Regions from separate parts of the Homo sapiens genome. Here region 2 is linked to region 1. The links come from fine-mapping of genetic effects on gene expression. A gene starts in region 1. The other region holds a variant in brackets. All regions are shown on one strand. Distances are from middle to middle.

Evidence for each region. PIP is the estimated chance that this variant, and not a neighbour inherited with it, causes the effect.
Region 2: its variant is the best candidate, but not a certain one, in a credible set for the expression of RGS18 in whole blood (TOPMed, PIP 0.75).

Annotation. Positions count from the first base shown.
Region 1 is chr1:192,156,204-192,161,605 of GRCh38, forward strand. RGS18 (regulator of G protein signaling 18) reads left to right here and starts at 2,259. Exons shown (of 5, transcript NM_130782.3): 1 at 2,259-2,553; 2 at 3,017-3,118; 3 at 4,175-4,236. The coding sequence starts at 2,435.
Region 2 is chr1:192,187,732-192,193,133 of GRCh38, forward strand. No RefSeq gene overlaps it. Among named protein-coding and RNA genes, the nearest start is that of RGS18, 32 kb to the left of the region's middle. The variant G/A (reference allele first, on the strand shown) is at 2,999.

The sequences.
Region 1 (5,402 bases):
CCAGCTCCTAACTGACCACATACGCAGAGTAGAGCCAAACCTCTCTTTTCCAATTCTGTTTCAGAACTTTACACAGACCTGTGGAGTAGTTCACTTATGCCCATATTTTCTTTTCTTTTTCTTTTTATTTTTTTGTGAGGGGGATGGAGTCTTACTCTGTCGCCCAGGCTGGAGTGCAGTGGCATGATCTCGGCTCACTGCAACCTCTGACTCCCGGGTTGAAGCAATTCTCTGCCTCAGCCTCCCCAGTAGCTGGGATTACAGGCACCTGCCTCCACGCCTGGATAATTTTTGTATTTTTAGTAGAGATGGGGTTTCACCATCTTGGCCAGGCTGGTCTTGAACTTCTGACCTCATGATCCACCTGCCTCAGCCTCCCAAAGTGCTGGGATTACAGGTATGAGCCACCGTGCCCGGCAACTTGTGCCCGTATTTTCACAATTTCTTTTTCCACGGTTCTATCAGCATTGTGTATAGCACACTTCACACATAAATTTAACATATCTTATGAAAAATAATATATTGATTTTATGTCTTTAACTTCTCTGAGTTAACAGTTAAGTTATAGTCCTAGTGACTGGATGATGTCCATGCTCCTATGATTTTCTCTTGTGCTCATTCACCTTCATAGGATTAAACTGATATAAACACAGTGGATACTAATCATTACTAGGGGACAGCAGGGTGGAAGCATAATCTGCATTATCAGTATCCATTTCCAGCAGAAGCTCAATGCAAAATGCCATCATACATAATATTTTTCAATTCTCAGCCAAGGTGAGAGATTTAAAATATGTTCAAAGTACAAGTCATGGAATCAGGGGGTATATGTATAAATATATACTAGAAAGTCTTTAATTTCATATAGATAAATGTTTTGAGCTTTTAGCTGGTATCCCTGATAAATTGTCTTGGTAAAAAAATAATTCAAAAAGACTGAAAATAAAATTTTCTTTTAGGTTTGTATAACTCAGCTTTCAATATATACCATTTTAGATTAAAGCATTCACTACTGGAGATCAAAGATTCTTGGAAGGACTAAAGCACATAGTAGGTGATCAAAGGCTCTGATAATTCCAGATTTTCCACTGGCCTGTCTCTGAAACTTTGTAGGATTAAATTACCTAATGCCTGTGAACTTTGGTTTATTTTTCAATAAAATTTGAATTATGGACTAGAACTGCATTTGTAAGACTTTTGTATTCTATAAAACAGTGAAAGAAGTGGAGGCTAAACCAATTGGAGTTGTCAACATTTTTTTTAATAAAGGCATTAAAATATAAAAACTACCATCTCTACTTAATCCATGTCATTATAAAGAACATTTTTACATTATAAAGAACATTTTAACAACAAAAGAGTCAGGAGAGCAAATTCAAAATAGCAAGTCCTTTATATCAAAGGAATTAAAATAAAGCTTTAAGAAAAAAAACTTTTCATATTTTTTTCCATTTCATCACAGACTGATAAAAATTTCAAAAATGTCTAAAATCATTCTATAGATATGTGCTTAAAACTTTATTTATTTATTTGAGACAGAGTCTTGCTCCGTTGCCCAGGCTGAAGTGAAGTAGCCGGCATGATCTCAGCTCACTGCAACCTCCGACTCCCAGGTTCAAGGGATTCTCCTGGCTCTGCCTCCTGAGTAGCTGGGACTGTAGGTGCACACCACCGTGCCTGGGTAATTTTTTGTATTTTTAGTAGAGATGGGGTCTCACCATGTTGCCCAGGCTGGTCTTGAACTCCTGAGCTCAGGTAATCTGCCCACCTTAGCCTCCAGATTACAGGCATGAGTTACTGTGCCCAGCCCAAAACTGTTAAATTAAATGCTTTCTACAATCTTTTTTTAACCATAAAATTCTGATCTATTGTCTTATTTTGTTACAATATGTTAAGCCAATGTAATTAACATTACATAATCTTATGTCAGTTAAATGTGATTTACTTAACTCATGTAATAACAATAAGAAAAATACTTTTTTAAGAACTGGAGAAAATATCTCCTAATGTTTGATATAATACTTTGCCATAACACATTTTAACACACAGTCCACACATTTAAAAACTTTTTGAAAAGTTCCTGTGGGAAATGACAGTGTTATTTGAGTCTATTAAAGCATCATTCTGGTTGCGCAAACTTGAACGAGAAGTTGCACTGTGGTAAGACTAGTCTTTATCTTAGAGACCAAGAGTCATTTTGCAAATTTGTGGTATCATTTCCCTAAACAACTTAGGACCAAATTGTACTTCATTTCCTCAGTTCTGCATTTCTGCAGAGACAGAAAGAAACGCAGCTCTTGACTTCTTTTTTGTAAACATTACTGTAAGAGTTGTGATAACTTTTTATTCTACTATGTATATGTATGGAATAGTATTAATAAATGAACTAGGGAAGGATGTAATAAATTAGACATCTCTTCATTTTAGAGAGAAGATGGAAACAACATTGCTTTTCTTTTCTCAAATAAATATGTGTGAATCAAAAGAAAAAACTTTTTTCAAGTTAATACATGGTTCAGGAAAAGAAGAAACAAGCAAAGAAGCCAAAATCAGGTAAAATTGTACAATTTTAAGTCAGCCTTATACTTTTAAAAGCATAATTGAGGTTGAAGATTCATTACCTCTTGTTTTTGAACTATTGGGTGGAAAATATATTGTTTGTATTGCTATAATTTGGGAAAAAAAAACACCTTTTTATTTCTTAGGTTTAAACAACAAACTGAAATCTAAAGTGTTCTCATTAAAAAAAAAGTGTAATAATGTTAGCCACATAGAGGAACTAGTGCAATCTTTATTGAAATATAATCTCAAATACTTGATTGTCGGTGAGCAAAAGGAGAAACATTTTCGTATGTTACCCTAATTCCTCCACAAATACAATATTTAAATGGGATTCATGAGTGTGTGGGTATGGGTGGGCGTGGGTTTTTACCAACTACAAAATTTTCTGGTAGTCAGCAGGAGAGATTTTAACTGTCATCTAAATTGTCCTGACATGAAGGCCTTTTTATTACAGAGCTAAGGAAAAAAGAAATAGACTAAGTCTTCTTGTGCAGAAACCTGAGTTTCATGAAGACACCCGCTCCAGTAGATCTGGGCACTTGGCCAAAGAAACAAGGTGAATAAATTTTCAGTATTTTGAGGAAGATTTTGCTGATTCTATCATTAAAGATTTAAGAAAAATGCAGTTAGGGATTTCTGATTTATTGAAAATTACACAGCAATATAAGGAAAGTTAGAAATTTCATTTGAAGAGACTAGAAATATTTCATAAAATTAAATCACTTGAATTAAATCGCTTGAATTGAATAATCACGTGAACACTTAAAGCTGCTCTTTTAAAATTATATACCTGTCAGTTTTAAATGACATGTTTTACTCCTTATAACCTGATAAAATGCTCATTAATTTAAGAGTTTTCACAATGCAATATTGTCATAGCAGAGAGATATTCATCTCTTTCTTCAGTAGTTTGAAAAAACACACGCATTATAGCAAGTAAAGCACAAATAATGTCTTTTAATACTTAGCATTTATTTAATTCAAAAAGAAAATGCAAAAACCTTATATACTAGTTTCATACAAATTCTTCCAAATTAGAGTATAATAAAAAAGATCCGAGAAAATATATTCAATTCTCCACATTACCAACATCTCTAGAATATTTTTTCTATTAAAATATCTTATATTTCTTATCCCTTTGAAACTTTATTAGTCAAACTTCCTGTATCCGTTTAAAAAAAAAATTTGCAGCCTAGTGTGGTTACAGCTTCAAGGAAATTGCAGTATAATTTTTTTTTAACTGAAAGATACTGTGAGTTTAGTTTTTTTCTACTTGCTGAATTTAAACAGATAGTTGACCTGATTTCTTTATATTTGTTATCTGTGCCCTTTAACCTAAAAAAGGATTAATTTTTAATTAAAAAATAAAACTCACATATCCATGAGAAAAAAAATAATGTTATTTCAACACATTATTCAACAGACAAATTCCAAAAGAAAATTGAACAATGTTTTCAAAGTTTCTAATGTAAATGCAATTTTCATTATATTATAATCAAAGGAGAAACTGTGAAATATAATTGAAAAGAGCAGTAAAATAGCATATGTTAGAACAGATTCATAAACAGACTTTCTGCACACTCCATTATAAAACATTTTGTTTCTTGTACAGAGTCTCCCCTGAAGAGGCAGTGAAATGGGGTGAATCATTTGACAAACTGCTTTCCCATAGAGGTTAGTGGTACTTTCACCAAATACTTTGTGTGCTTAATGGAAAATTACACAAACTATGCATGTAATTATCCGAAACAATAGGTCACAAAATTTTTGTCTGATTGTTAATTTTCAGTAATTCAATTTTCTGATCAACAGAACTAAGTAATAGAAAAGTCAAATAATGGAAATTTTTTTAAAAGTTCTCATTTTGTTTAGAATTACCTACTGTGGATGAAATATTAGTTATTTATACTGTAGCTAGTTTCAGTTTTTAAATTTTTCCGATTTTTGAATGAAATCTTCGGTTTTATCAAATTCATGATTAACGAACTATTCATGTTAGTTTCATTGTTCAAGGATTAAAAATATCAAGTAATTCTTTCGATGGACATACAGGAAACCCACATAAACACAGTTTTTTTTGTTTGTTTGTTTTTGTTTTTTGTTTTGAGACGGAGTCTCGCTTTGTCGCCCAGGCTGGAGTGCAGTGGCGCCATCTCGGCTCACTGCAAGCTCCGCCTCCGTTCAGGCCATTCTCCTGCCTCAGCCTCCCGAGTAGCTGGGACTACAGGCTCCCGCCACCACGCCCGGCTAATTTTTTTGTATTTTTAGTAGAGACAGGGTTTCACCGTGTTAGCCAGGATGGTCTCAATCTGCTGACCTGGTGATCCACCCGTCTCAGCCTCCCAAAGTGCTGGGATTACAGGCGTGAACCACTGCGCCCCGCTCCATAAACACAGTTTTAAAAAAAATTTATAAATTCTTCATTCTGTACTTCATATCAATTGTCTATTTTTAAAGCAGAATTTTGTAGAAATGTTGAGAATCGAGTATGTATTTAAGGTGGAGCTTTGTCTGTGAGATGGAGGGTGAGGACAAGCATCAAGGCCTCATTTGACTCTGGAACACTGTTATAATATAGCATGGCTTAGGAGGCAGGCTCCCTGGATTGCCACTCTTTAGGGTCAATTTACATAAGGTAGCAAGTGAGTGAACTTTGTTGTCTGTATTCATTTTATGCTTTCTTTCAGATAGAAAGACTCAACTGAGCAGGTGATGCAGCTAGGTAATCACAGATTTATTATTCTCCACCCTGAACTTGTCAGAGTCTGCAAAAAAAGCAATGCTTTATCATTACCAAACATCCACCTCAAGCCCACAGCTTTTTTTTTTTGCACTTTAAA
Region 2 (5,402 bases), 32 kb after region 1:
TATATCATTTGAAGCCTTTTCAACAATAAAAATAAAAATTCGTACAACTTATCAAAACTCATGTTCTATAACTTGAATAAATCAACAAGTATTTATTGAACACTTTCATTTGATTGCTACTGCTAGCTTCTGAGCATTCAAAAGTGAATTTAACAGTGGGAGTGACAGGGAAAGAGAGAGAAAGAAAAACTCTCTTCATAGTATATTGTCTGATAAAGCTTGCATTCTGCAATACGCAGCTGAAAGCCATGTTTTAAACTTTTCTTCGTATGTATCCCAAATAACAAATCCTTCTACGACCAATCGTGCAGATTACCATTTATCTTTTGAAGCTAGGAGTTAAGTAACTAATTTCCTCATTTATTTAAGGACAATACAAAAGATTCACTAACTTGCATATCTTTGTGCATCTTTTATAAAACAAAAGAGGAACTGAAAGTATATGTATATATAAATACATTTTATTATGGGTTTGAATTTTTTGGTCATTTTATTGGTTTTGCTCTATAAATCAACCAATTATAGAAGGGTCCTTTGAAGATGAAAAAACACAAGTTTTAAGAAACATTTACAAAATTAAATCACTTGGGAAACAATACAAATTTAGCAGCACAGGTAGTAAAATATTACATTTGGAAAATTTTTTTAAAAATCAGATTCAGCTGTGTTTTTAGACATAATTATTTAATAGTAAACATATACATTTACCTGGAATCTTACCTACTAAATTTTATAGAGTAGAAATGAACCTTTTAGAAGTAATAAGCAAAGCAACTATTTTAAACGTCAGACATTTGCTAAAACAACAGTATTAAATTTTAAATAGTTTGTCTACAGTCTTATTATTTTTTATTGTGTTATCTATCTGTAAAAAACATAAAATTGTGGGAAAAATGAAGACTGAATCATTGTTAAATGTTGATCCACTAAAAAGTGTCAAAATTCTTTTTATTGGATGCAATTTACTAGAGCAAGAAAGTGAATAAAAAACATTTGGAAAGATTGCCATCAACATGTAAAACCCAACAATCATTTTTTCAACATGGAACTGTTGTTACATGTAAAGAAACTGAAATATTGAAACATGAATCCAAGTGAGATCAAATCAGTATCAATGATAGCAGGAATAAATGTATTTAATAATCCATAGTTTGGAATATCTTATACTTCATTTATCGTTATTTAATCATAGACTCCTGTAGTTCAACAAATGTTTGCCATGCTTCACCTCTGTCCCAGTCACTATATGGAACAGTAGTGATACAAAGACAAATAAAATAATGTAAAGGCTATCACTGTAGTATTTAAATGAACGGTGTTCCTATGTAGGCAAACACAAAAATCAGTCATTTCACTATGACATGTGAAACATTGATATATAATATATCTTGACTTCCTTGTGTCTAAAAAATGGCAAGACAATTTCATGCAACGTAGCTAAACAGCAGAGTCATGTTGCTGTGCCTTCACAATATGTCTGAGTATATTTTATAATATAGGATTAGGTATTAAATTGCTATATTCATACTGAAATCTGCTTTAAAATCTCAATCTCTAGAAACCGGAATTGATCTCATAAATGAGCATCACTCACATTAGAATGCAAGCTCCCAGAAATGTATTCAAGTTACATTAATAGAAAATTATTTAACATAGAGGCTTTGGAAGTAAATTTTTGATAGAATTGTGAAAGAATGTTAAGAGATACTGATAAATGAGTATCAACCAAAAGATCATACACGTATGATAACTGAGAGAACTAAATAAGTTCACTGGAAAATCATGATTCAACCCATGAAATCCTATTTATTTGTATTATTCTTAAACACTTCTATTGAAAAATATAATAAACACATTATCTAAAAAGTTTGCATGATCATGAAGGGAACACTAATCTTGCAGTTTGGCCCCATTACATATTTTTTCTTTAGTAATCACCTCACCATATATTTTCTTCTGTTGTTTTTTGTCTGTTTTATCTTTTCTCCAGGCAGATACTTTGACAAAAATTTGTAAATAAAAAGTTTTCAGCGTGTTACACACGCAGGAGTGTGTGCGCGCGTGCACACACACTCAGAGTTTGATTTTTGAAAGGGAATATATAATTATCATAATCATTTCTCAGTCAATTGGGTAAGAGTGTATTTTCTCTGCTGTGGAATATCAGTATTTCTTCCTCATTGAAGAAAGTCTTTAGGGAAGTGTTTGGAGTGATGAAATAAGACAACACTTAAATCATTCAGAAGACTTTTATGAGAAAACTGGGATTATAAATAACTGATAATAGTAATTGGAGAAATCAATAAAATAGTAGTTGTAGTACTTCTAAAATCCCGTAAAAATAAGCATTATTTAGATCACTGAATATTGCAAATTATTGATGGAGTTCACTCCAGCAACTGCCATTATCTTTCTGAGGAAAAACAGCATTTCACGTTCATTTTTCTCATTTTTCATAGAGTCTCTGAGGCCTTTAGAAACTTAAGAGTATTTTAGATAGAAAGTCCCATTTTCTTGAATGGCTGAGTCAGCAAACACATCTCTAGAGACAGAGTTAAGTAATTATTATAGCATATTATAATATTTCAAAGCTAATTTTTCAACAAATGATTGACACATGTCTAAATGATCTTTAACATAACAAAAAAGGTTACATGGGGGAAATCCTTTAATTTCAAGGACATATATATTGGTAATAAAAACAATGTATATATTCTGGAAAAAAGATTACAGAAAAGTGAAAATATAATATTCTGAACCACCATCTCTACTCTAAAATCATACCATGGTTTTTATAAAGGGTTATACAGTGTACATATTGAAGAGTTAACATGATTAATTGTACATATCACTTAAAGACAAATAAAAAAATGTAAGGAGCATAAGTTGAATAAAAAAGAAGTCTAATTTTCCATTCTAGAAATAAACATTTTAACATTTATATTCTTCTAATATTTTAAAAATCTACAAATTTTTTTCATTGAAACAATGGATTATG[G/A]ATATGAATATCAATTTTCATAGAATTATATTAATTACAAAAATCAAGTTTTAAAGATAGTATTAATGTGTGAAAAAATACTTATCTTAATTTTTAAAATGTACTGTATGGTATTAACATGAACTAGAACTAGATTGAAGTAAAGAATAAAATATATTCAAATCTCAAAATGGAAAAATGATTATATATTTGAGGTAAATCCTAGACAGAGTATATTAAAAAATTGGATTATAAAAAATATGAAGATAAAGAATGAGAAAAAATAGAGTCCAAAAACAGACAGACAATATTGATGTAGTAATCATTCTAAAACGCAGTATTTCGTTACAAATAATGCACATTGTGATATATTTTGAATAATAAAAGGTTTGCAATATTTGAATTGTCTATTAAAAGCATGACACTGTTCTGTTATGGGAAATCTACTTCATTACTGGGAGCTGAATAAGACACTCTGCAGATTTTAAAAATTTTATTTCATCTTTAAACACTAGTGCTGGAAGGAAATTAGAGTTCATGTCCCAACAAACCTTCACACTTTGTAGAACAGAATAAGGAAGTCATTTCTAGACTAATTTACAACATTAATAAAGAAAGAATTTGAGTAAAAATGTCACTCAGATATCAACCAATATCATTTATGTATTCCTCTCATCAACCATTAATTTATTAGTACCTACAAAGTATCAAGATTCTCTTCTAATAAAACAAAATGTTAGATATGTTCATTATCCTGCCACAAGAGTTATCTCATTTACTTTAATGGAAATTAAATATTAATCAAAACTCAACATGAAACTACATTATTTCCTTGAAATTTACTTTTGCTAATGTTATGCTTGTATGTGTTCGTAAACATACACATACGTAATTGTTGAAAGAAATGCAAGCTATATTAAAATTAACTTTTTTAAACTTTATTTATAAAACACTAAGAACACTAGCATTTAACTGAATGCTAATCTTTGGGAGAGTGAACATTTAGAGAATTTTATTTCATGAAAGAAATGAAGTAAATTAATTATATTTATTAGGATAGTATTTGAATGTAAGATATAATGCATGGCACATAACCATATTAAAATTTTAGTCATATATGTACACATATGTCCTGTGCATATAATTTCAGACTTTCAGAGTTTTATAAGAACTTAGATACTTAATAATACATTTTATGTTAAAATTGCATATTTAATTGAATAAATACTCAATTATTAAATACCAAGTTATTTCTGTCTTTGGCTTTAAAAGCCAAAGATATGTATTCATATGTCTGTTATGTTCATTTATAACTATAAGCCACCTTCATTTTTAGATATTAGGTTAAATAATTTTATAACAATGGGCACTGCTAATCTATTTTTTTGTTTTATAAAATGCCTCATTGCTTCTCTTTAATGTTTTATATATGCTACATATACTGAAATATTGAAAAGTATCTAGTATTTGCTTGTTTCCAAGATTCTAATTCATCTATAAAATAAATACTAGAATTACTAACACTGGTTAAAATCAATAGTATAAAAGGTGAACATTTAAATTATATAGTAAGTTTGAGCACAGAGGTTAATTTTTCCCTTCCACATTATATGGCTGACTCTTTGGCAAAGATACAGAACGGTTTGTTTGATCAAGTTCCTTCAAAAGGTAAGTAATGATTTAGACCAGACTTGACATCAACAACAACAAAAAAAGGTTGATATCAAATTTAAAATTATGATGACACTTTTACAGGTGTTTATAAACATTCTTTTTAAAAATTCAAATTGTGCTACATAAAAAAAGAATTATAAAAATATAGCAAAACAACAAATTAGAGAGAAGGAAATTTAAACTTTAACAGAAATACTACAGTGGGGGTGGGGTAGGGATGGGAGGTTTTGGGAGAACCAGAGAATTGGCACAGTATTTGAATGTAAGTCATAATCCCTATGAAAATGTGTTCAAATAAGAAAGAATTTTGTACGTGTTTTAATACATTTTCTGTAACTGACATCATAGACTTTATTAAACCATTATTAGATGTTTATATTTTGTATTTGACAGCTCCTCAAGTTAACAAGCTTAACAGTTTTACTACCTCAGACATTATTATTATTTTACTTCTTTTAAAACTGAAATTTCTTAAAGAACTAATTAGGTCTTTGTTTTACTTTGGATTCAGCCAACAAGTCTGTGTTCATACTCGTGATTTTACGGATTTGGTTATTTTATCTCTCAGGCTTCATCTTCCTAAACTAATTGTTTATTGAGATTATTCTAAAATCCATAGACTCTCTCTTTATAAATATATTCTCTTTAAATCTGGCTTATTAAAAAAAAACTATTCTTTGGTGTAAGAATAAACACCAAAGTTCTATTTTTGATTTCATGCATAATGTTACATTGAAAACACTTTAATATG